Regions from separate parts of the Homo sapiens genome. Here regions 2 and 3 are each linked to region 1. Evidence: fine-mapped expression QTL. A gene starts in region 1. Each other region holds a variant in brackets. All regions are shown on one strand. Distances are from middle to middle.

Region 1 (8,184 bases):
GAGGGTATGACTTAACCAGTCTGAACTTTCAACATTTACTAGTTTTGTACATAATATGAATTTAATTGCTTTTTTCCCCTTTCTTCTTTCTATTAATTTTGGAAGGAGCAAATACAATTCAGGAAACAATATCAAAATATTCCAGATTATACCAGATTGCATAATTATTTACCTATTAAAAGAAAAATACTACCTTGGTTTTGTAAACAGCCTACATGGAAAGACAAAAAAAATAGGTATTTATCCTAATTACAATTCTTTTTGTGTGTGTGTGTGTGTTAAGTGTTTTGTAGTCTTCTTGCTCCCTCTGACCTGAAGTTCCCTTTGAAAAGGAAAAAGTGCTAACTTACTTGGCTTGGAGAAAGGAGAGAGGCTTGGTTCAAAAGTGACTGCCAATTTTTTTCCAACCAGCTGTTAGTCTCCTTAAGAGCAACAGGCAGCTAATGGTTGAATGGACTTCCTTTTGCCAGTTCATCTCCATCTGGGAGAGTTCCCCTCCTTTGTGGAGGTTGAAACAACTTTCTCAGACACAGTTATCCAGGACAGAAGTATTCTCATGCTCAGTTGCACTCTACCAGCTCTGGGGGACATTTGAAAATCTGACAAATGCTTTGTAGTTTCTTGTGATCTTCAAGCATAATCTTAAAAGGCATGTAAGTGTCCAGGAAATACAAGAACCTGAGAAATACTTTGCACACTTACTGTGAACTTGGGGTGTTTTATTATTCTAATCATTGCACCTGACAAAAGATTACTGAGCAGTGCTGAAAATGGAGGCGGGGCGGGTTGCGTTTCTAAGGAAAGAAGCAATTGCAGCTTTAACTTGTGCCAAGGAGTAATTTTGGCTGCTAAAATACTCACTGACCACCACCTGGTGAGCCGTTTGCTCCCACACGTGAATTCTGTTCTGTTCTTGAAAGCAGGATAGGAACCTACACTGTGCATGGCCCTTCTTTTTTCCTTTTTTCAATTGTCATCATCATTGTCATCATCATCATCAGCAGCAGCAGCATTGTTGTAGTCATTACCATTATTACCCATCCAGTTATTTCCACTAACACTGACCAGACTGGCTGTCAAGATCACACAGTGACAAAACAGATGAAAGCCCTTTAATTTGATAAGTTTGAAAGAACAATGGGAAAAGAGTCTGTAAGGCTAACTACTGGTTTTTCACTACCTTGATAATCAAATGAATCATTTCTCCAGGAAAGATTAAGCCTACTTGAGAGTAACCATTTTCTAAATGACGTGATGATGTTGTTAGGAAAGCAAACTTAAGACTGTGTGTGTGTGTGTGTGTGTGTGTGTGTATGAGAGAGAGAAAAAGAGAGAGAAGAAACAGATGGAGAGACAGAGAGAGAACAGACATTGGGATTTGCAGTGTGTAGGTGAATCCCTTTTCTTTCTGTCTCTCTTTCTCTTTCTCTCTCACTATATGCAACCTGTTTTAGAACAAGAGCAGTTACACACCAATGCTCCGAAGTTCTGTGAACCTTAACATTTCCTTTAACCACAAAAAACAATTGCTGAAGCAAACAGGATCTCAGAAAGGCAGTTTAAAAAATACATTGTGAGGATGACTCATTGACTCATTTTTTTTCTTCCCAGATCTTTATAGTGTCCATATATCTAAATGGATTTATATATACTTTTAAGCAAATGCACCTAAATTCTAAATCTGTGTAACCTCTAGGAGAAAGGGATCTTAAAAATGTGTCAATTGCAAGGAAATATAGTTGCCCTAATAACAAGCTTCTGGGCATTTTCCTTTTTTTATGTTACGGAAAACTCATTGTGCCAAAAGCTTTCTGCTTAGGCATGTTAAGTGAGCTGAAAGTATGCGTGAATCCTAGAACAAGCATGAACTTTTACAGGTAGATACATCATTTTGAAGTAAAGACTGGAGACTGGGTAGTAGAATGCTCAGAGAATGTGTAATCAGTCCCCTTGTTTCAGAAGAAGAATGAGGCTCAAAGAAGATAAATGACTTGCCCAAGATCCTCCAGCTATACCACAGCAGGGGCAAGGCTACAACTCAGACTCCTAACAACTTGTTCAGTGCTATATCTGCCACGTTAAACCTCTGAAAAGTTATTTATAAACTGAAGTTCTGTAAATAAGTCCTATTTTGAATCTGAGGTTAACCAGACGTGAAAAAATGGTCACTATTCTATAAACCCATTTTTGTAAATAGACAATAGGGATTCATATGTATTAAGTACTGACCACTATTCTAAAAGCTTTCCCTATCATAACACTTAAGCCACACACAGCCATATGAGGTTTGGACTCCATTTTATAAGTGAGTAAACTGAGGCACAGAGAGATTAGGTAACCTGCTTAAGGTCATAAGTGAATTGGTTGGCAAAGCCTAGACCGTGCAATTCCAGAGCTGAAGCTTTTGACTGTTACCCCACACAGAGCTTGCTTAAAATGAGGCAGCAGCTGGACATGCTTTCACATAAATTGCCAAACATGAGCCACGGCTCTGAAAACTGAATAAAAATACACTGGATGTTGGCCTTGCAAGGATTTTCTCTTTAATCTTTAGGGATTAAGTTAAATGAGATAATCAGTTTGGAAAAGATAAAGCATACCACATTGAAGTGCAACGCAAACATTATGCATCTACTATGAAGATAATCTGTACAACCGATAGGTATTACTGTCCCACTTCACCATTGAGGAGACCAAAGTTAGCTTGTATGGGTACCACGAAGCAGAACCAGAATCTGAGTCTGAATCTCGTTTGACTCCCAACTTATCAACCTGCACTACCTCCCTCACTTCCCACCTCAGAGCTAGCTGGTTACCTAGCTACCTGGAACCTGGGGACCTCAGCCATTCCACTACAACATGGTTAGTGAGGTTACAATAATCACCTTGGAAATGATGAATGCTCAGGAGAGAGAACACACAGGTTCATCCAGCCCTGCTTGGTCTTAACGCTTCCCTTCAGGATGGGGCCACGCATAATCCAGAGTGCAGTGCATCAGCCTATAGAGGGCGCTCTTAAGTATCATAGCCAGATGTAAAAGAGCAAAATTCCTATAGGCAAAGAAATGTGGGCTGGGCGTTTTGGAATGCCATTCCTGGAGGGAGGTGTGGGTGAATGATTGCCAATTTTTCCGTTCTAAGCTTATCTTCATAGTTGTGAGCATTTTTCAGGTCCTCAAAAGAGTTAGTATCTAAGTATAAATTTTCTCTTTAAGGTGTTTGCTTAAAGAGGAAACATCTTTAAGAAGTGAAAGCTGAAGAATGGGGCCTAAGATCAAACTTCAAGGTGTTGGTGGCCTAAACGCCTGCCATCAAAGTAACACAACAGAATGATAACTTGGTAAACAGCAGCGAAGCTCAATAGATATTCTTCAAATTGATTTAAGTTGTGATAAAAACCCAACTAATGATTTTAAATATTTCTGTAGCTAGAACAACATAGCAGAAAGACAACATCAAAATATTAACCATGATTACATTCTACATGACTAGATTACAAGGGGTTCTTTGCGACACTCTAATTTTTCTTCAGCGAACTTGTATTGCTTGGGTAATTACACATACACAAAAACCTTACTACTGTTCCTTTTAAAAAATTACTGAATAGAGTTTTTTAAAAAATTGCTAGACGTAGTTTCTTGCGGAAAATAATCAAATTCACGAGATTCTTGAGTCCAAATTTCCTTTATTTAGGTGGCTCCAAATTCTAAAAAAGCTTTTGCCTATAGCCCAATCTCATAGGCAGCATTTGAACAAAACATCCATCCAATGACTAGATCATCCCTTTAAAATCGCAACCTTTACAGTTAAATTCCAGTGGATAGGTCAAGTCATGGAAAAGCTGCAAGATGAGAACAGAAAACTGAGCAGTGCCAATGGGGATTGGAAGCTACCAGGGCTCCAGTATCCCGACTTGGGAAAAAAGAAAATTGGAAAAGGGAATGGAGGGTTGGAGTGCCAAGTATGTGTGAGGAAGAGTAAGAGAGAAGGACCCAGGCCGGGCATGGTAGCTCACGCCTGTAATCCCAGCACTTTGGGGGGCCAAGGAGGGTGGATCACCTGAAGTCAGGATTTCAAGACCAGCCTGGCCAACATGGCAAAATCCCATCTCTACTAAAAATACAAAAATTAGCTGGGCATGGTGGTGGGCGCCTGTAGTCCCAGCTACTTGGGAGGCTGAGGCAGGAGAATGACTTGAACCCGGGAGACGGAGGTTGCAGTGAGCTGAGATTGCACCACTGCACTCCAGCCTGAGCAACAAAGCAAGACTCTGTCTCAAAAAACAACAACAAAAAAAAAAAAAAAAAAAAAGAGAAGGACCGAGAGAAAGATAGACAGAGAGAGAGAGACAGAGAGAGAGAGAGACAGAAAGAGAGAAGTGCAAATCAAAGCAACATGGTACCATGAAAAACCACTCCTGGTCCATTTATTTAACTTCTTCCCTAGCAGCCCTGCTGTGCTCAAACCACTGTGACAGGCTTTCCTTAAGGTGTTAGACAAGAGATAGCACAGAAGAGAGACAAGGCAAAAAATTTAGTACTATTTTCCAGCCTAAACTAAACCTTTATTTTAGTCATGACTTTAAAAAATGTATTTGCGGGAATGACTCAACCCCTTGTTCCACCCCTTGCCTTGTGTATTCCTTCAGTGCCTAAGTTGATATTTGCAGCCACTACCTCACTCAGGATGCTTTGTTTTTATCATTTCAAAATACTCAAGTCCTTGCCCAAGCTGGGCAAAAGTGTCCAGTGGTGTCAAAACAAAGCAAAGCAGACCGGAGAGCCTCCTGCCAGAAAGATGCATTTACCTTCACCAAAAACATCATCCTCTTCATCGACCAGGAGCTCCTCAGCATCAAAAAACTGCATCTTGGAGAGGACAGGCGCGAGAAGCAGCAGGCAGCAGCCCCGGCAGTCTCAGCAGTCACACTGCCGACCGAGGTGATTTCCTTTCCTTGGGTTGCCCAAGCCCTCTGGAGGGCAGCTTCCGCATCTGCCCTGAAGAAAGCAGTTTCATTCATATGAATAGGCTTCTTGAGCCTTGTGAAGAGTGAATCCCAGGTGGGGTAATTCTCACCACTGAGGAGAAAGAATTTTTTGAAGAGGGCTGCAGATCCGGTTGGATATGAATACAGATATCACTCAAAGTCTGAATGCAATGAATTCTATTTCAAAGCAACAACTTTCATATTTCCTTAAAGAGGAAGGTGGGTGCTTAACTTTCTTGCTTATGAATTTGAACACAATGGGTTTTGTTGAAAGAGGGAGTTCATATTTCTCATATCTTGGTTTTGCTTCAATTACAATTTATCTGAAAGTAAAGCAAGCCACTATGTTAAACCAAAGCAGGCATTTAGAGGACAGAGCTTTTATTTTGCTCAGTAATAGTTGCATTTTTCTTTTCTTTTCTTTTCTTTTTTTCAAACCTCTTGCATTTAAGGATTGGAAACTTTACAGCATTTAAACCAAACTGAACCATATCTAGGCTTTATGTGGCTCGATTAAATCTATAGTCAATGAATAGATAACTGGTTTTGGTCAAACATCTTGCATTTCACAATATTTACTCAGTTTGATACTTCAGACTGTATCACTAAAGGAGAAAGAAGAAAATGTAACTCAAAAAGCAGTCCTCCCAAAGGGATGAGTGAACACTGAGCTTCTACGCGAGCACCATTGGCTGGCATCACCATATCGAGCTACCCAACGTGTGCCAAATTCTGTCTGGCTGCACAAACAAACACACATCTCTCTGAGTAATACTGAGACTTCATTTCGGGGTTTCCCAGAGCACTCCACTGTGTTGTAAGATCTCTTAGGTGGCCAGAAGCTTAGAAAATGCAAATGGAGATGACAGTGAGGAGCTGTTGACCCAAGGTGTTTATTTTTGGCACTTTATTTACTGCATGGTTTTGAAGATACTCCCAGTGTTACCCTAGAGAAACTGTCCCCTCCTCCTGTAACTGCAACCTTGAAATTGCACCATTTTCTCCCAGAAGAGACTGTGGACAACAGGGTTGGAGAAATCCAGCAGTGAGAAGGGATCACCCCAGAGGAATTCAGGAATCAGACACTGAGGGTTAACTGAGCAGCAACAGTCAGTTCATCCCTGCATTGGTGGCTGCAGCAGTTCCCAAAGACAGTGTACAGCTTGGGTCCTGCTGGGATCACCAATTGTTGTCAATCAGGGCTGGAACCATCCTTAGAGGAGAGCTTGGAAATGTCTGGGGTGTTTTGGGTGGCACAATGACTGGGGGTTATTACTGGTATTTAATGTCTTAGCACTCAGGGGCCCAGGGATATCAACCTTACCATAATGCATGGAACAGTAGCTCAACAGGAAGAACTGTCCAGCTCCAAATACCAATAATGCCCACCTTGAGACACACTGACAGGCAGAGAACTGGAGTTATCCTTTTCTCTAGCTCTCCTTTGCATCTCCCCTTTCTGACCCTTTTACCACCCCCTACCATGATCCCCACTTGAATGATGTTTCTGGACAAGGGTTGCACTTAGTTACATAAATTAAATTAATTAAAATGGGCCTAGGTGTAGGAAATTTGGATGTGGACTAAAGCTCTCTTTTGTGTGGTTGGGATAAGAGGATGGGTGTCCATTTTGATAATCACTACATTTCTCAACTACTGTCCTATGTCCTTTAATCTCCACAACTTCATGAGGTGGGTGCTATTATCCCATTTTACAGATGAAGCAATGGGGGCTCTGAGGGCTTGAAAAACATTCCTAAGATCAGGCAGCTAGTGAGTGGCAGATTTGACTAATTCCAGAGCTCACTCTGTTACCTCATGTCTGGACAACTTATGGGAGTGACTGCACACAGTCCAGTTCACTGCAGCATCCCCGTGGCTCTTGGGGACCTGCACTACCTCCCTCACCTCCCACCTCAGAACTACCTGGTTACCACGTGAACCTGAGGGCCCTAGCTATTCCACTTCAAAAAGTTAGCATAACCTCTGTAGGCCTGTTTCATTTTAAGTGGGTGGAATTGTGTCTCCCCTGTTGAATTCATATGTTGAAGTCCTAACCCCCAGTACCTCAGAATGTGACCTTACTTAGAAACAGGGCCATTGAAGATATAATTAGTTAGGATGAACTTATATCATATTGGAGGAGGATGGGTCCTTAATCCAATATGACTAACTTCCTCATAAAAAGGAGAGATTTAGACAAAGACATAGACATAGGGAGGATAGTATGTGAAGATGAAGGCAGAGATCCACAAGCCAAGGAACACCAAAGACTGCCAGTAAACCACCATGAGCTAGGGGAGAGGCCTGCAAGAGATTCTCCCTCACATCCCTCAGAAGAACCAATCCTGCCAACACCTTGACCTTGGACTTCTAGCCTCCACAGCTGTGATGCAGTAAGTTTCTGTTGCTTAAGCCACCCAGTTTGTGGTACTTCATTACAGAAGTCCTAGAAAATAATATACTTTCTCATTTGGCTTGTTTTGAGGATTAAGTAGGATAATTTATGTAAAGAAGCTGACACAGTACATGGTACACAGTAAATACCCAGTTATAATTATACGCCTAAGTCTCTCACAGGGACGCTTAGGATATTTCCCAAATTGAAGGCTCAATGGGGATAGAGAATGAGAAGTCACCACACTCCATATAAAACCTCAATAACCCTTAGGAAGTTTCCCTCAGTCTCCTCTTCTCCAATTTAGATATCTCAGAAACACAGCTAATCATCTCAAAGAACAAATCACAAATGCTACCACGAACTCCTTGAAAGCACAGAGGATAGAAAACATGGTTCTTGCTCTCCAAAGTTTACAATTACCTTAGAGAGATATGACATACATGCATGATGTGTTAACTAAAAAGAAAAATTAATAAACTACATATGCATGCATCAATATGGATGAGTTTCAAAAACATAATATTGACTTTGAAAGGTCTCAGAAAATTATAAATGGTATAATTATATTTATATGAGTGTCCAAAATGAGCAAATAAAAAAATGTAGGTAATCGCTAACACAGAGTGCCAGCAACAGTTTTAAGTGCTTTGATTCACTTAATTCCTATATCAACCCTAAGATATAGATATATTTATTATCTCTATTTTAGTTTAAGGCCCAAGAGGTGAAGTGATCCACCCAAGGTCATACATTTGGTAAGTGGTAGAGGTACTGAGATTTGATCCCAGAGTCCAAA
Region 2 (8,184 bases), 65 kb after region 1:
AGGTGGCAGGGCTGCAGTCTCGCACAACTCCACAAAGCTCTGCTTACAGAGAATACAACATACAAGGTACCTCTTATATGTTCTCAAGTCATTCTTTATATTGTGAACCATTTTAATAAAGTTCATAGCAATTCCCCAAGGGATATTTTATATCTGTATAAATACAGATGTTTCTATGAAGATCTAACATCCCAAATCTACTCTCAAATCTGCAACTAGAGTGATTTTTTTTTTTTTTTTTTTGAGATGGAATCTCGCTCTGTCGCCCCAGGCTGGAGTGCAGTGGCGTGATCTCAGCTCACTGCAAGCTCCGCCTCCCGGGTTCATGCCATTCTCCTGCCTCAGCCTCCCTAGGAGCTGGGACTACAGGCGCCCACCACCACACCCGGCTAATTTTTTGTATTTTTAGTAGAGACGAGGTTTCACCGTGTTAGCCAGGATGGTCTTGATCTCCTGACCTCGTGATCCACCTGCCTCGGCCTCCCAAAGTGCTGGGATTATAGGCGTGAGCCACCACGCCTGGCCTAGAGTGATATTTTTAACCTAGAAAATAAAATTCCTTTATTTCCATGCTTAAAGTCTTTCAATGTTTCCTTATTGTCCCTAGACAAAGTGCAAACTACTTATCATTTTTCATGTGGTCTTTCACCACCTGGATCCTACATATTTTTCAGGTCTCATCTATGAACTATGGGCAGAAAATCTACGATAAACAAAAGATCAAAAAAATTAGAAAAAGACAGCCTGCTGTTATTTGATTTATGACCCTGGGTTATTGCACAACAGGAGTTGATGAATGCATCTTTTAATTACAGCCCTCAAGTGTGCAGAGGAGGTGGGGATCACAGTGAGCTCACCTCCTCAGATCACTTCTCTGTTTAACCATCGCTGGCTGCCTCTCGTCTATACAGTCCTGACCCCTGAGCATGCAGCTCTTCATGAATGGCCTTATGCCCTCAAGCCCTGTGCTGCCCCTTTCCCTTCCCTCCCACCACTGTTTCTGCTTCCTTTAACACCAGCTAGTCCAACTGTGTCCAACCACGCTGATGTACTTGACATTTCCAATCAACACTGTTTACTTTCAACACCCAGGTGAGAGGCTTCTCTAAGAACCCCTTCCCCAATTCTTCTGAGCCCTTGGGAAAAGTAAGCCACTTCCTTTAGTGTGATACTTCCTCTGCGTGACTCAGGCACTTTATACAGGCTTCTATTATAGCACTTACTGTATTGTTCATAGTTAACTTCTCCATTGCACTAGGAGGTCCCTAGAAGGCAGAGCCCTTAAACTTTTCAATTTTGTATTCCTAGCACATAGCATAATGGACAACTCACAGGCGGTACAGAACAACTACTTGGAAATTAATGACATTTTATGGGTCTAACTTGTTTTGGAATGGGTTTTCCTTAGGGGCAATCATACATACGCTGAAGCGGCTACAAGTGTTCCTTCTCAATCTCACAGTTTCAAATGTGAATTACTAACTAGCGAGGATGGAGTCCAATGATTTTCAACCTTGTCTGCTCATTGGGCTCACCTGCAGAGCTTTTAAAACTCCCAACATGCAGGCCATAGCACACAACAATGAAATCAGAATCTCTGTTGGTGGGATGCAGGCATTTGTGTTTTAAAAAACTCCCCAGGTGATTCTAATATACAGTTAAGCCTGAGAACCACTAGTTTGAGTGTTCCTAGGTAGTTAATTTAAAAAACCTTTTCCTGTATGCTCACTATGTAGTAAACACTGCGTTAGGCATTTGGAGGGGAGGTGGGGTGGGAAGGTAGTATTTGGCCCAGAAAGAGGAAGAGCCTCAGAATTTCTATATTAGACATAGTGCTTGCTTTTAGGAAACTGCAGTCCTTACAGCCTCCATGAGCAATAGCAAATGGTGATGGTATCTAAATTGTATGGTTTAAATCAAGGTTTCCCAACAGTGGTATTTTGGGTTAGATAATTCTTGATTGTGGGAGGCTGTCCTTGGCATTGTAGGATGTTTTGAAGCATCTCTGGCCCCTACCCACTAGATGCCAGTAACAAGCAAAAGCACTCCTCACTTCCTACTGCCACAGTATATAACAACCAAAAATGTCCAACATGTCCAAATGTTCCCTGGGAGTAAAGTCATCCTTTGTTGAAAACCATTGATATAGAGCTCAGTGTAGCATCCTTTGCAAGACCCCCAGGTGATCTGTATGCACATTAAAGTCTGAGAAACACGCACTGGTTTAAAGCAGTGATTCCCGAAGTGTGGCCCGTGAGCAGCATCAGCATCATCTGGGAACTTGTTGGAAATACATCCTCAGTCCCCACTCCAGACCTACTGAAACCAAAACTTTGCTTCGGTAAGTCCTTTGGGTGATTCTCACACTTAGGTTTCAGGGCCACTAACTAAAGGGGAAAAGGAGATTGGATGCACTGGAGCAATCAAAAAAGTCTTAGGAATAGAGCTTGATTTGGGCCTTGAAATTGAATAGGCGGTGGGGAGGGTATTCCAGGTGCAGAGAACAGCATGAGAGAGGATTTTCAGATGTAAATTAGCCCACACTCTTAAACTGCCAAGCCCCTCTTTTTCTCCTTTTCCCCTTAACTTCCTCAATCTGTTTGTTTTCTTGTGTTTTGGATAGAAAACGGTCTCCTCTGCAATTTATACTCCATGATGTGTTCATCAGCTTGCTCAAGTAATTCTTTGAGAATCTCAACAAAATGATCACTTGCAAAAACACAGGAGTGTGTTTTTGAAAAGTTGTGAATAATCAAATTTACCATCAGACATATGTACAAATCAGTACATATTTACAAATGTATTTCTCATTTACAAGGATTTTATATTGCAAACCATTTTTATAAAGTTAATAGCAATCCCCCAAGGGATATTTTTGGTGACTATAAATACAGATGTTTCTATCAAAAAATCTAGCATCCCAAATCTACCCTCAAATCTGCAACTAGAATGATATTTCTAACCCAGAAAATCTGATTCCTTTGTTTCCATGTTCAAAGCCTTTCAACGTCTCTCCATTGCCCCTATACAAAATGCAAACTGCTTACCATTTTTCACATGATTTTTTACCACCTGGATCCTATATATTTCTCATCTATAGACTATGGGCAAAAAAAATCTACAATAAACAAAATATCAAAAAATTAGGTGAAGACAGGCTGCTGTTATTTGTTTTATGACCCTGGGTTATTGTGGAACAGGAATTCCAATCGGCCCAAGGTTGGCCAGGACAGACCTTGTCAATGAGAGTTGACAATGGCACGGGAACAGATTGGACAATGTGGAACTTTATATGCAGTCATTTTTTTTTTTTTATTGTAGAGCTTGTATTGACTTCTTCCACAAACTATAGGAACATTTTTGGGTGAATGTACACTATAGGGATGCATATTCCTTTTGCCTCAGGCTCCAGGGTGACTCCACATAGCACTGAATCAGAGTGTTCCTTC[C/T]TCCTAATTGATCTGGGAGATCAAATGAAGGCTGATAGGGAATCTTGGGGATGTTGATTTGGATGTGAGACAGGAAACTTACAGGGTGGTTACAGGAGAATAAAAATTCCAGGCAGCAGTTTCACATAACTAGAGGCTATGGGCTGATAAGACCCTGAAAAACCAGGTGTGGACCAAGCTGACTGAGACTGACTGGACCCAACATGGAGCTGGATCCTACTTAGGTTTCACCTAGGACCTTATTATATGCTCATTAACATACAAATCACACACCTGCCAGTGCCATGACAGTTCCAAGAACATCTATACTTGCTGGAAAAGTGGGCGGCATGACAATTCTGAGAAATCTCCACCTTTTCCCAGGAATTTTCGTGAATATTCCACCCCTTGCTTTGGTTAAAGAAACCCATGAAGGTAGCAACCCCAAACCCCCTTGTGCATGACTCTTGTCTACAACCACATTCCCTTCTCTTGAGTGTGTAATTTTCCCTCTGCAACAAATCTCTGTACTTTCACTATTTTCTGACTCATCCTTTTTTTTTTTTTTTGAGACAGAGTCTCGCTCTGTTCCCCAGGTTGGAGCACAGTGGCATGATCTCGGCTCACTGCAAGCTCCACCTCCCGGGTTCACGCCATTCTCCTGCCTCAGCCTCCCAAGTAGCTGGGACTACAGGCGCCCACCACCACGCCTGGCTAATTTTTTTGTATTTTTAGTAGAGACAGGGTTTCACTGTGTTAGCCTGGATGGTCTTGATCTCCTGGCCTCCTGATCCACCTGCCTCAGCCTCCCAAAGTGCTGGGATTACAGGCATGAGCTACCGCGCCCAGCCCTGACTCATCCTTGAATTCCTTCTTGCAACAGTGTCAAGAGCCTGGACACCAGCTGGAGTCGAGGTCTCAACCATGTTTGGGGACCTCTCTGAGCCCATCAGTATCAGGTGGTGGTGAGAGAAGGTCAGCCAGCTGACTGAGATTTTTAGCTTCAAGTATGCCTTGCCCAATTCCTTGCCACCCTTCATCTTTTGCCTTCATGGCCCCAGCCACCCAGGGCCATTTGCATATCCCCAATACCATGGTCTCTCTCAAGTCTAGTCCTATGCACACATTGGCACTCTTGCCTAGAAGGTTCTTACTGGTGTCTTTTCACCTGGACAACTCTTACTTTCACTTCACTCTCCATTAGAGGTTGCTTCCTCCAGGAACCCTTTCCTGACCAATGAAGGTGTCAGGAAGTTTGGGCATCCTTCATGTTAGCTCTGTAGCACTCCATGCTGACCACTCGCGAAAACTCACACAATGCACTCCAATGTAAGAGTTCACCCATCTTCCTCCCCGACTGTACTGTCAGGTCTGTAAGGGCAGGGAGTGTATCCTGTGCACTGTTGTATCTCCTGAGCCCAGCCCTGTCCCTGACACATAGTAAGTGCTCAATTAGTCATTTATTAAATGAATAAGTGAACTCATGAATATCTGGCTTGAGGGGTTTTATATCTGTATTTTAATCTACAGTTAATGCAGCACTTCTTTTTCCCAAACTAAAATTAATTAACAATGTTAGGCTACATTGTTCATGTTTTACATACAGCCAGCCTCTATTTTCTTTCTGTACTGCTTTTTCCTTTTTTTTTTCTTCCCGTGCTGGCTTTTCTTTCTGCTCTTGGTGGGGCCTGGAGTATCTCTGTGGAAAAGTAGAAGGTTCTCACCAAGGAATCCAGCACTGAGCCTGCTGCCCCGAAGTTCCCCAGCATTGCTGCTTTTGTTGTTCCCCAGCATGCTGGACCAGCAGCAAGGAAATACTGACTCAAGTTCTTGGCTATAAACATCCGTGGAGAAATGCTTTCTCCAGAGATGGACCCATAAGTGGAGGAGGCAAAGAACATAATTCCTGTATATTGACCAGGCATCATTTACCACTTAAATGGAGGAGGGCCAGTCAGTATGTTCAGGAAAGGGGCTGCGGACCTCGATTTTTTTTCAGGTGTAATTAAAGATACCATTCCCTAGCGATGTCCTGCTTAGAATTCAATTAATCTGGTGCATGTGCACACACATACGCACATGTACATATACATGCACATATATACGTGTAAACACACATATACTCATGTATCTATATGCTTATACACATATTTATATATTTGCATATGTGTATGTATACCATACATAGGTATATATGCATATGTAGCTACATATAGGTATACACATATGCATTTATGTAATCATACAAATACAGAGACAATATACATATTTTCAGTCCTAAAATTTTAATAACTTAGGTCAGGGGTTAGCAAACTTTTTCTGTAAAAGATCAGAGAGTAGTTGGGTGCAGTGGCTCACGCGTGTAATCCCAGCACTTTGGGAGGCTGAGGTGAGCGGATCACGAGGTCAGGAGTTTGAGACCAGCCTGGCCAACATGGTGTAACCCCGTCTCTACTAAGAATACAAAAAAATTAGCTGGGCGCGGTGGCGGGCACCTGTAATCCTAGCTACTCAGGAGGCTGAGGCAGGAGAATTGCTTGAACCCAGGAGGCAGAGGTTGCATTGAGCCAAGATCACGCCACTGCACTTCAGCCTGGGCGACAGAGCGAGACTTCATCTCAAAAAAAAAAAAAAAAAAAAAATCACGGAGTAAATATTTTAGGCTTTGTGGGCCTTACTTTCTTTTTCCTTTCTTTCTTTTTTTTTTTTTTTTTAAACATAGTCTCGCTCTGTCGCCCAGGCTGGAGTGCAGTGGCGCGATCTTGGCTCACTGCAACCTCCGCCTCCCGGGTTTAAGTGATTCTCCTGCCTCAGCCTCCCAAGTAGCTGGGACTACAGGCGCGTGCCACCATGCCTGGCTATTTTTTTCTTTTTTTTGTATTTTTAGTAGAGATGGGGTTTCACCATGTTAGCAAGGACAGCCTCGATCTCCTGACCTTGTGATCCACCCGCCTCAGCCTCCCGAAGTGCTGGCATTACAGGTGTGAGCCACTGCGCCCAGCCTGTGGGCCTTACTTTCTCTGATGCAACTATTCAGCTCTACCATTGTAGTTGAAAACAGGCATAGACAAATTATTAGCAAATGAGGTTGGCTATGTTCCAATAAAACTGTATATACAAAACAGCAGTGAGCTGCACTAGGTATACCAATCATAGTGTGCCAACCTTTTCCTTAGACTATAGGTATGACTAGAGCATTCAGTAAATGGCATTTAAAACAAAATTACCTAAACGTTAGGACAACCATATAAGTATTGGGTATTTTCTTACCAAATACTATGGTAAAGTACAAATTCTGTGGACAAGAACATAACGTATGTCCTCCAACTCGTAGACTCTACATTCATAAAAATTAAGATAACAACCACCTGTTACAGAAGGACTTATCCAAATGGTATGTATTTCTTCATTGTTCATCTTTTTGTTGTTTAAATATGTTCAACATGCTTTAGGAAATAAGGTCCACTGTGAATCATTCACATTTCCTTATCTATTCAGTGAACGCTCAAGAAGTGGAAGCTTTTTTACTTCCTGCACGTTTCCATAGAAAGCAAAACCTGTATTTCATGTTTTCTCCTTACAAATACTGAAGGAACCTGCAGAAGCAACAGTGCCCTTTAAAGACAACCAGGTGTTTTAGATATACAACATGTTATTTCTTTCTGAATCACATTCAGCTTTTTGTCACAAAATCCCTGGACAAGAATGAAAGCAGGGACTCAGCTCCACCTGGCACGGTGTCAATCAAAAATACCACATGTAGAAGTGATGGCAGCCACAGGAAAGTGGCAGTCCGAGGTGAATGAACGTCATGGTGACAATTGCCTGAGCATTGTCAAGTCTGAGAAAGATTAAACAGCCATCTTGAAATGGAATGTGTGGTTCGTCCGAAGTTGCAGCCGGCAATGTGCCTTTTGCAATTTGCAAAAGATCCAAGTACAAAAAGTGATTTAAGACAAGTTCATAAGGGTTGCAGCTCCTGCGAATATTTCTGCAGTTAAAACATGGAACATTTTTATGTTTTATATTCCATGGAACATTTTATGGTTAAAACATGGAACAGGTTTTATAAAACATGTTTACGATTCACTTTTATTTTTATCAAGCGGATTAGATTGTAGAGAGAAAAGATTGGTGAGTCACTTCTCGACCGTTCACATAGGGTCGAATCTTTAAAACTTTCTAAGTAACCTTTCTCAGAGCATGCATTTCTAAAACACAAAACCATTCAGCAATCATGGAAGAAAATGCAGAAAACATATTTTGACTTCAGCCTTTGAGAGTATCATTGGGTAAGAGGTATCTCAAGATTTATTTTTATTTAACTCTTTCCTCTTTGAAAGAGGTCTACATGAATTATCAGTTTTTCAGAATTAACACATTATTATTATTATTATTATTATTATTATTATTATTATTATCATCTCCTTTTTCTTCTTTTCGAGACAGGATCTCATTCTGTTGCCCAGACTGGAGTGCAGTGGCGCAGTCATGGCTCAGTGTAGCCTCAACCTCCCTGGGCTCAAGTGATCCTTGCACCTCAGCCTCCCAAGTAGCTGGGACTACATGCGTGCACCACCACACCTGGGTAATTTTTCTATTTTTTGGTGGAGACGGGGTCTTACTATGTTGCCCAGTCTGGTCTCCACCTTCTGGGCTCAAGCTATCTGCCCACCTTGGCCTCCCAAAGTGCTGGCATTACAAACATGAGCCACCATGCCTGGCCTAAAATCTCCTTTAAAGGTAGCATTACCTC
Region 3 (8,184 bases), 120 kb before region 1:
ATGAAGGGTTGTTGAATTTTGTCAAAGGCTTTTTCTGCATCTATTGAGATAATCATGTGGTTTTTGTCTTTGGCTCTGTTTATATGCTGGATTACATTTATTGATTTGCGTATATTGAACCAGCCTTGCATCCCAGGGATGAAGCCCACTTGATCATGGTGGACAAGCTTTTTGATGTGCTGCTGAATTCGGTTTGCCAGTATTTTATTGAGGATTTTTGCATCAATGTTCATCAAGGATATTGGTCTAAAATTCTCTTTTTTGGTTGTGTCTCTGCCCGGCTTTGGTATCAGAATGATGCTGGCCTCATAAAATGAGTTAGGGAGGATTCCCTCTTTTTCTATTGATTGGAATAGTTTCAGAAGGAATGGTACCAGTTCCTCCTTGTACCTCTGGTAGAATTCGGCTGTGAATCCATCTGGTCCTGGACTCTTTTTGGTTGGTAAACTATTGATTATTGCCACAATTTCAGAGCCTGTTATTGGTCTATTCAGAGATTCAACTTCTTCCTGGTTTAGTCTTGGGAGAGTGTATGTGTCGAGGAATGTATCCATTTCTTCTAGATTTTCTAGTTTATTTGCGTAGAGGTGTTTGTAGTATTCTCTGATGGTAGTTTGTATTTCTGTGGGATCGGTGGTGATATCCCCTTTATCATTTTTTATTGTGTCTATTTGATTCTTCTCTCTTTTTTTCTTTATTAGTCTTGCTAGCGGTCTATCAATTTTGTTGATCCTTTCAAAAAACCAGCTCCTGGATTCATTGATTTTTTGAAGGGTTTTTTGTGTCTCTATTTCCTTCAGTTCTGCTCTGATTTTAGTTATTTCTTGCCTTCTGCTAGCTTTTGAATGTGTTTGCTCTTGCTTTTCTAGTTCTTTTAATTGTGATGTTAGGGTGTCAATTTTGGATCTTTCCTGCTTTCTCTTGTAGGCATTTAGTGCTATAAATTTCCCTCTACACACTGCTTTGAATGCGTCCCAGAGATTCTGGTATGTGGTGTCTTTGTTCTCGTTGGTTTCAAAGAACATCTTTATTTCTGCCTTCATTTCGTTATGTACCCAGTAGTCATTCAGGAGCAGGTTGTTCAGTTTCCATGTAGTTGAGCGGCTTTGAGTGAGATTCTTAATCCTGAGTTCTAGTTTGATTGCACTGTGGTCTGAGAGATAGTTTGTTATAATTTCTGTTCTTTTACATTTGCTGAGGAGAGCTTTACTTCCAACTATGTGGTCAATTTTGGAATAGGTGTGGTGTGGTGCTGAAAAAAATGTATATTCTGTTGATTTGGGGTGGAGAGTTCTGTAGATGTCTATTAGGTCTGCTTGGTGCAGAGCTGAGTTCAATTCCTGGGTATCCTTGTTGACTTTCTGTCTCGTTGATCTGTCTAATGTTGACAGTGGGGTGTTAAAGTCTCCCATTATTAATGTGTGGGAGTCTAAGTCTCTTTGTAGGTCACTGAGGACTTGCTTTATGAATCTGGGTGCTCCTGTATTGGGTGCATAAATATTTAGGATAGTTAGCTCCTCTTGTTGAATTGATCCCTTTACCATTATGTAATGGCCTTCTTTGTCTCTTTTGATCTTTGTTGGTTTAAAGTCTGTTTTATCAGAGACTAGGATTGCAACCCCTGCCTTTTTTTGTTTTCCATTGGCTTGGTAGATCTTCCTCCATCCTTTTATTTTGAGCCTATGTGTGTCTCTGCACGTGAGATGGGTTTCCTGAATACAGGACACTGATGGGTCTTGACTCTTTATCCAACTTGCCAGTCTGTGTCTTTTAATTGCAGAATTTAGTCCGTTTATATTTAAAGTTAATATTGTTATGTGTGAATTTGATCCTGTCATTATGATGTTAGCTGGTGATTTTGCTCATTAGTTGATGCAGTTTCTTCCTAGTCTCGATGGTCTTTACATTTTGGCATGATTTTGCAGCGGCTGGTACCGGTTGTTCCTTTCCATGTTTAGCGCTTCCTTCAGGAGCTCTTTTAGGGCAGGCCTGGTGGTGACAAAATCTCTCAGCATTTGCTTGTCTATAAAGTATTTTATTTCTCCTTCACTTATGAAGCTTAGTTTGGCTGGATATGAAATTCTGGGTTGAAAATTCTTTTCTTTAAGAATGTTGAATATTGGCCCCCACTCTCTTCTGGCTTGTAGGGTTTCTGCCGAGAGATCCGCTGTTAGTCTGATGGGCTTTCCTTTGAGGGTAACCCGACCTTTCTCTCTGGCTGCCCTTAACATTTTTTCCTTCATTTCAACTTTGGTGAATCTGACAATTATGTGTCTTGGAGTTGCTCTTCTCGAGGAGTATCTTTGTGGCGTTCTCTGTATTTCCTGAATCTGAACGTTGGCCTGCCTTGCTAGATTGGGGAAGTTCTCCTGGATAATATCCTGCAGAGTGTTTTCCAACTTGGTTCCATTCTCCACATCACTTTCAGGTACACCAATCAGACGTAGATTTGGTCTTTTCACATAGTCCCATATTTCTTGGAGGCTTTGCTCATTTCTTTTTATTCTTTTTTCTCTAAACTTCCCTTCTCGCTTCATTTCATTCATTTCATCTTCCATTGCTGATACCCTTTCTTCCAGTTGATCGCATCGGCTCCTGAGGCTTCTGCATTCTTCACGTAGTTCTCGAGCCTTGGTTTTCAGCTCCATCAGCTCCTTTAAGCACTTCTCTGTATTGGTTATTCTAGTTATACATTCTTCTAAATTTTTTTCAAAGTTTTCAACTTCTTTGCCTTTGGTTTGAATGTCCTCCCGTAGCTCAGAGTAATTTGATCGTCTGAAGCCTTCTTCTCTCAGCTCGTCAAAATCATTCTCCATCCAGCTTTGTTCTGTTGCTGGTGAGGAACTGCGTTCCTTTGGAGGAGGAGAGGCGCTCTGCGTTTTAGAGTTTCCAGTTTTTCTGTTCTGTTTTTTCCCCATCTTTGTGGTTTTATCTACTTTTGGTCTTTGATGATGGTGATGTACAGATGGGTTTTCGGTGTAGATGTCCTTTCTGGTTGTTAGTTTTCCTTCTAACAGACAGGACTCTCAGCTGCAGGTCTGTTGGAATACCCTGCCGTGTGAGGTGTCAGTGTGCCCCTGCTGGGGGGTGCCTCCCAGTTAGGCTGCTCGGGGGTCAGGGGTCAGGGACCCACTTGAGGAGGCAGTCTGCCCGTTCTCAGATCTCCAGCTGCGTGCTGGGAGAACCACTGCTCTCTTCAAAGCTGTCAGACAGGGACACTTAAGTCTGCAGAGGTTACTGCTGTCTTTTTGTTTGTCTGTGCCCTGCCCCCAGAGGTGGAGCCTACAGAGGCAGGCAGGCCTCCTTGAGCTGTGGTGGGCTCCACCCAGTTCGAGCTTCCCGGCTGCTTTGTTTACCTAAGCAAGCCTGGGCAATGGCGGGCGCCCCTCCCCCAGCCTCGTTGCCGCCTTGCAGTTTGATCTCAGACTGCTGTGCTAGCAATCAGCGAGATTCCGTGGGCGTAGGACCCTCTGAGCCAGGTGTGGGATATAGTCTCGTGGTGCGCCGTTTCTTAAGCCGGTCTGAAAAGCGCAATATTCGGGTGGGAGTGACCCGATTTTCCAGGTGCGTCCGTCACCCCTTTCTTTGACTCGGAAAGGGAACTCCCTGACCCCTTGCGCTTCCCAGGTGAGGCAATGCCTCGCCCTGCTTCGGCTCGCACACGGTGCGCACACACACTGGCCTGCGCCCACTGTCTGGCACTCCCTAGTGAGATGAACCCGGTACCTCAGATGGAAATGCAGAAATCACCCGTCTTCTGCGTCGCTCACGCTGGGAGCTGTAGACCGGAGCTGTTCCTATTCGGCCATCTTGGCTCCTCCTCGGTGGTATTATTGTTCCGTTTAGTA[C/T]TTGTTTACATTCTAGCTCTCTCCCTGCTCACGACACCTCCTTATGACAATCAAAACTGGTTCTCTGCTTAATAAAGAGAGCTTGCGGGGAAGGATCTGGGAATTCAGTGGCATACTGAATTTAGTACTTCTTTTCAAATCTTATTTGTCCTTGCTTTTTGTTGTTCACAATAAAAATGAGTGAAATCACCATACATCTCATCTCCCTTTTAAAATAAGATATACTTTCCTTTTCTCTCTCTCTCTCTTTTTTTTTGAGACAGAGTCTGGCTCTGCCACCCAGGCTGGAGTACAATGGCACAATCTTGGCTCACTGCAACTTCCTGGGTTCAAGCAATTCTCCCTCCTCAGCCTCCTGAGTAGCTGGGATTACAGGCACCTGCCATCATGCCCAGCTAGTTTTTGTATTTTTGTAGAGATGAGGTTTCACCATGTTGGCCAGGTTGATCTCAAACTCCTGACCTCAGGTGATCCACCGGCCTCGGCCTCCCAAAATGCTGGGATTACAGGCATGAGCCACTGTGCCGGCTAATAAGATGTACTTTTCTAATACTGACCTAAAGGCAAACTGGTTCCCTTGGGCTAGTGCAAAACATGATTGCTTTCTGCCACTTATTGACTTTAACAAAACAAAGTCACATGTAATTACTGTTTAAGGGAGAAAAATACTAAAACTAACATACGGTGCAAAGAAGACAAGAAATACTGCTAAAAAAGTACTTTCAAACATGAAAGAAAAGCTGTTATATACACTCAGCTTAGCCTGGCTCCAAGCTGAGCTGCCAGGGGAGCTCCAAGGCTGGGCTTTACCTCAAGGATTTTCAGAGCCAGGCAAGCTGCTTTCTGGAGCTGGAGGTTTGTCTTTGTTAGTGCTTCACAGTAATAGAGCAAGGCCTGAAAGAGAAGGAGGGACCTCATGAAGGCATTTTGGTTTGTTCGTAGTTTAAGAGGTATACCTCATTCTTACTCTCTGAGATAAACTATAGCATATAACCTACACATTTTGCACTACCTTCAGAGCAAGAAAAAAAAAGCCATTGAAATTCATATTAATTAAAAGAGTCGTTTATTCAATAAATTGATCCCTTATGTTCTCCTAGATCTACTATGACTCTAGGAGAACATAAGGGATCAATTTATTGAGTAACATAATGACCGTGGGCTTTTATTGGCCACCTAAAGGTAATTTTTTAAACCAAGTAACGAGGAAGGCAAAATTTCTCAGAGCTGTTTTTGATCCCAGATCATTAACTTTTTCTTTTAAGGTGTTAATCCCTTTCTTTATGTCCCATCATAAAGGCCTGCAAGCTCCTGCCCCTTGTCTCATGTGTCATTCCAAGATTTGAAATATTCTCCTAGAGTCCATGACTCTAGGAGAATATAAGGGATCAATTTATTAAATAAAATTGGGAGAGAGTTATGATTCTGGCTTTTAAGGAGCCCTTAGATGTAGTAGAAATGCTAAGACTGTTTAGAAGGAACTGAAGAGAAGAAATGTATTAGGTCCCATAAGAAATCTACAAGGTAAGTCAGTCACTTGGAGAAGAGACATCTTACGGAGTGCCAGGGTAAGTTTCACAAAAATGTTTGAACTGGAATGGAAATGATGGCTTAGATTTCAGTAGGGAAGTTGATTGAAAAAAAGGTATTCAGTCAGAAATAAGGAAGACAGGAGGAGGCAGTACATTCCAGTGAGGAGGGTGGTAATGTCAGTTTGAGATTTGCTGAGTTTGATACATGGCAAATGAATGCTCTGTTTAAAAAATCTCTGCATAAAAGTACATTATCTTTTTTTTTTTTGAGACAGAATCTCGCTCTGTGGCCCAGGCTGGAGTGCAGTGGTGTGATCTCGGCTCACTGTAACCTCCATCTCCCGGGTTCAAGAGATTCTCCTACCTCGATTACAGGTGCCCACCACCACGCCCAGCTAATTTTTTTTTTTTTTTTTTTTAGTGGAGACAGGATTTTACCATATTGGCCAGGCTGGTCTTGAATTCCTGACCTTGTGATCCGCCCACCTCGGCCTCCCAAAGTGTTGGGATTACAGGCGTGAGCTACTGCACCCGGCCAATTGTCTTATTTTTACCAAGCTAATTTCTTCCTAAATGGTTGATAAAATGTGTAGTACTTAACATTAATTCAAATGAATAAGAATCACTATATGTCATATTGGTTCATAGGAAACTTAATTACTCTTGAAGAGAATTGAGGGTGGAAAGAGAGGACTAACTTTTGATTTTGTTGGGCTATATTGTGCATTTCTTGCTATTTGTCTGAATTACTTTTATTTTCTATTTTTATTTATTTATTTATTTTTGGAGATGGAGTTTCACTCTTATTGCCCAGGCTGGAGTGCAATGGCACAAACTTGGCTCACTGCAACCTCCGCCTCCCGGGTTCAAGCGATTCTCCTGCCTCAGCCTCCCTAGTAGCTGGGATTACAGGCGGATGCTATGATGCCCAGCTAATTTTTGTATTTTTAGTAGAGACAGGGTTTCACCACGTTGGCCAGGCTGATCTCAAACTCCTGACCTTGTGATCCGTCCGCCTCGGCCTCCCAGAGTGCTGGGATTACAGGCGTGAGCCACTGCACACGGCCCCTGTTTTCTCAGTTTTATAGGACAATTCCATTTAAAAAAATTGAAAATATAATTTATATACCATAATATTTAGACTACAGCATGTATAATTCAATGGTTTTTAGTATATTCACAAATCATCCCCATCATCTGATTTCAGAATATTTTCATTACCCCAAAAAGAAATCCTGTACCCATTAGTAGTCATTCCCAAGACCCTTTCTCTCCAGTCGCTGGCAACCACTAATCTACTCTCCATTACTATGGATTTGCCTACTTTGGACATTTCATATAAATGAATTCACACAATATGTAGCCTCCTATGTCTTGCTCTTTCATTTGGCATAGTATCTTCAAGGCTCATCTAGGTTGAAGGATGTATTAGGATTGCATTTCTTTTTATGGCCAAAAAATATTCCATTATATGGCTAGACCACATTTTATTTATTCACCAGTTGATGAACCTTCAGATTGTTTCTACTTTTTGGTTATTATGAATAATGCTGCTATGAACATCTGTGTACAAGGTTTTTTTGTGTGGACATATGGTTTAACACTCTTTTTTTTTTTTTTTTTTTTTTTGAGAGAGTCTCTCTTGGTAACCCAGGCTGGAGTACAGTGGCACCATCTCAGCTCACTGCAAACTCCGCCTCCTGGGTTCAAGCCATACGCCCACCTTAGCCTCCTGAGTAGCTGGGATTATAGGTGCCTGCCACCACACCCGGCTAATTTTTGTATTTTTAGTACGGATGGGGTTTCACTATGTTGGCCAGGCTGGTCTTGAACTCCTGACCTCAGATGATCTGCCCTCCTCAGCCTCCCAAAGTTCTGGGATTACAGGCGTGAGCCACCGCGCCCAGCCAGTTTAACACTGTTTTTTTTTTTTTTTGAGATGGAGTGTTGCTCTTGTTGCCCAGGCTGGAGTGCAATGGTGCAATCTCGGCTCACTGCAACCTCTGCCTCCCGGGTTCAAGCGATTCTCCTGCCTCAGCCTCCCAAGTAGCTGGGATTACAGGCATGCTCCACCATGCCCAGCTAATTTTTTGTATTTTTAGTAGAGATGGGGTTTCTCCATGTTGGTCAGGCTGGTCTCAAACTCCCGACCTCAGGTGATGCGCCCGCCTCGGCCTCCCAAAGTGCTGGGATTACAGGCGTGAGCCACAGTGCCCAGCTCTGTGGCTTAACACTCTTAAAGTTTTAACACTCTTAAAGGAAACAAAGATATGCAGTATAGGTTATTACAGCAAGAACAAAAGCAGTAACAGTAACTAGCTCTTTACTAGACCTAAATAGTTAGAGCCTGGGCTTTGGCTTTTGAAAACCTCTCTCTGGCTTGCCTTTTGGCCTCTACTCACTTGAGGGTGAGCAGCCAAAAGGGGAGGAAATAAGCCTCAATCCACAAGTGGGCAGCTACACAGGGACTAGCCTCCAGTACAAAAGGAACAAGGTGACTGTCCCTGAAGTGCCACTTGCCATCAACCCCCTCCAAAGCTACCATTTCCAGAGGTGGATATACACCAAGGTCATCTTTAGCATTTCATCCCTATTGAAGCATTGTTATAATGCAAACATGCCCGAGAGGAAGGACAATTTAAGTTGTGATCACCCATTTAAGTCTTGGAATATGTGGTTTTGGTAAGGGGTAAACCTATGGTTTGATAGTTAGCCTTCAAGTCCCTTGATATGAGTAAAAGAGGGAAATGGCAGGAGTTCAAGGCTGTAGTGAGCTATGATTGCACCACCTGGGTGGTGCATGT

The links. PIP is the estimated chance that this variant, and not a neighbour inherited with it, causes the effect.
Region 2: its variant is fine-mapped to the expression of RIPOR2 in whole blood (INTERVAL, PIP above 0.99).
Region 3: its variant is fine-mapped to the expression of RIPOR2 in whole blood (TOPMed, PIP above 0.99).

The regions. Positions count from the first base shown.
Region 1 is chr6:24,931,031-24,939,214 of GRCh38, forward strand. RIPOR2 (RHO family interacting cell polarization regulator 2) reads right to left here and starts at 4,930. Exons shown (of 22, transcript NM_001286445.3): 1 at 4,808-4,930. The coding sequence starts at 4,868. It overlaps LOC105374981 (a long non-coding RNA gene), which reads left to right and starts at 2,945. Exons shown (of 3, transcript XR_007059514.1): 1 at 2,945-3,034; 2 at 3,216-3,340. RefSeq lists an enhancer at 5,643-5,812.
Region 2 is chr6:24,995,577-25,003,760 of GRCh38, forward strand. It overlaps a transcript of RIPOR2 not described here. Among named protein-coding and RNA genes, the nearest start is that of RIPOR2, 64 kb to the left of the region's middle. The variant C/T (reference allele first, on the strand shown) is at 3,450.
Region 3 is chr6:24,813,884-24,822,067 of GRCh38, forward strand. It overlaps RIPOR2 (RHO family interacting cell polarization regulator 2), which reads right to left. Exons shown (of 22, transcript NM_001286445.3): 20 at 4,659-4,742. Among named protein-coding and RNA genes, the nearest start is that of ARMH2, 19 kb to the left of the region's middle. RefSeq lists a silencer at 7,031-7,159. The variant C/T (reference allele first, on the strand shown) is at 3,849.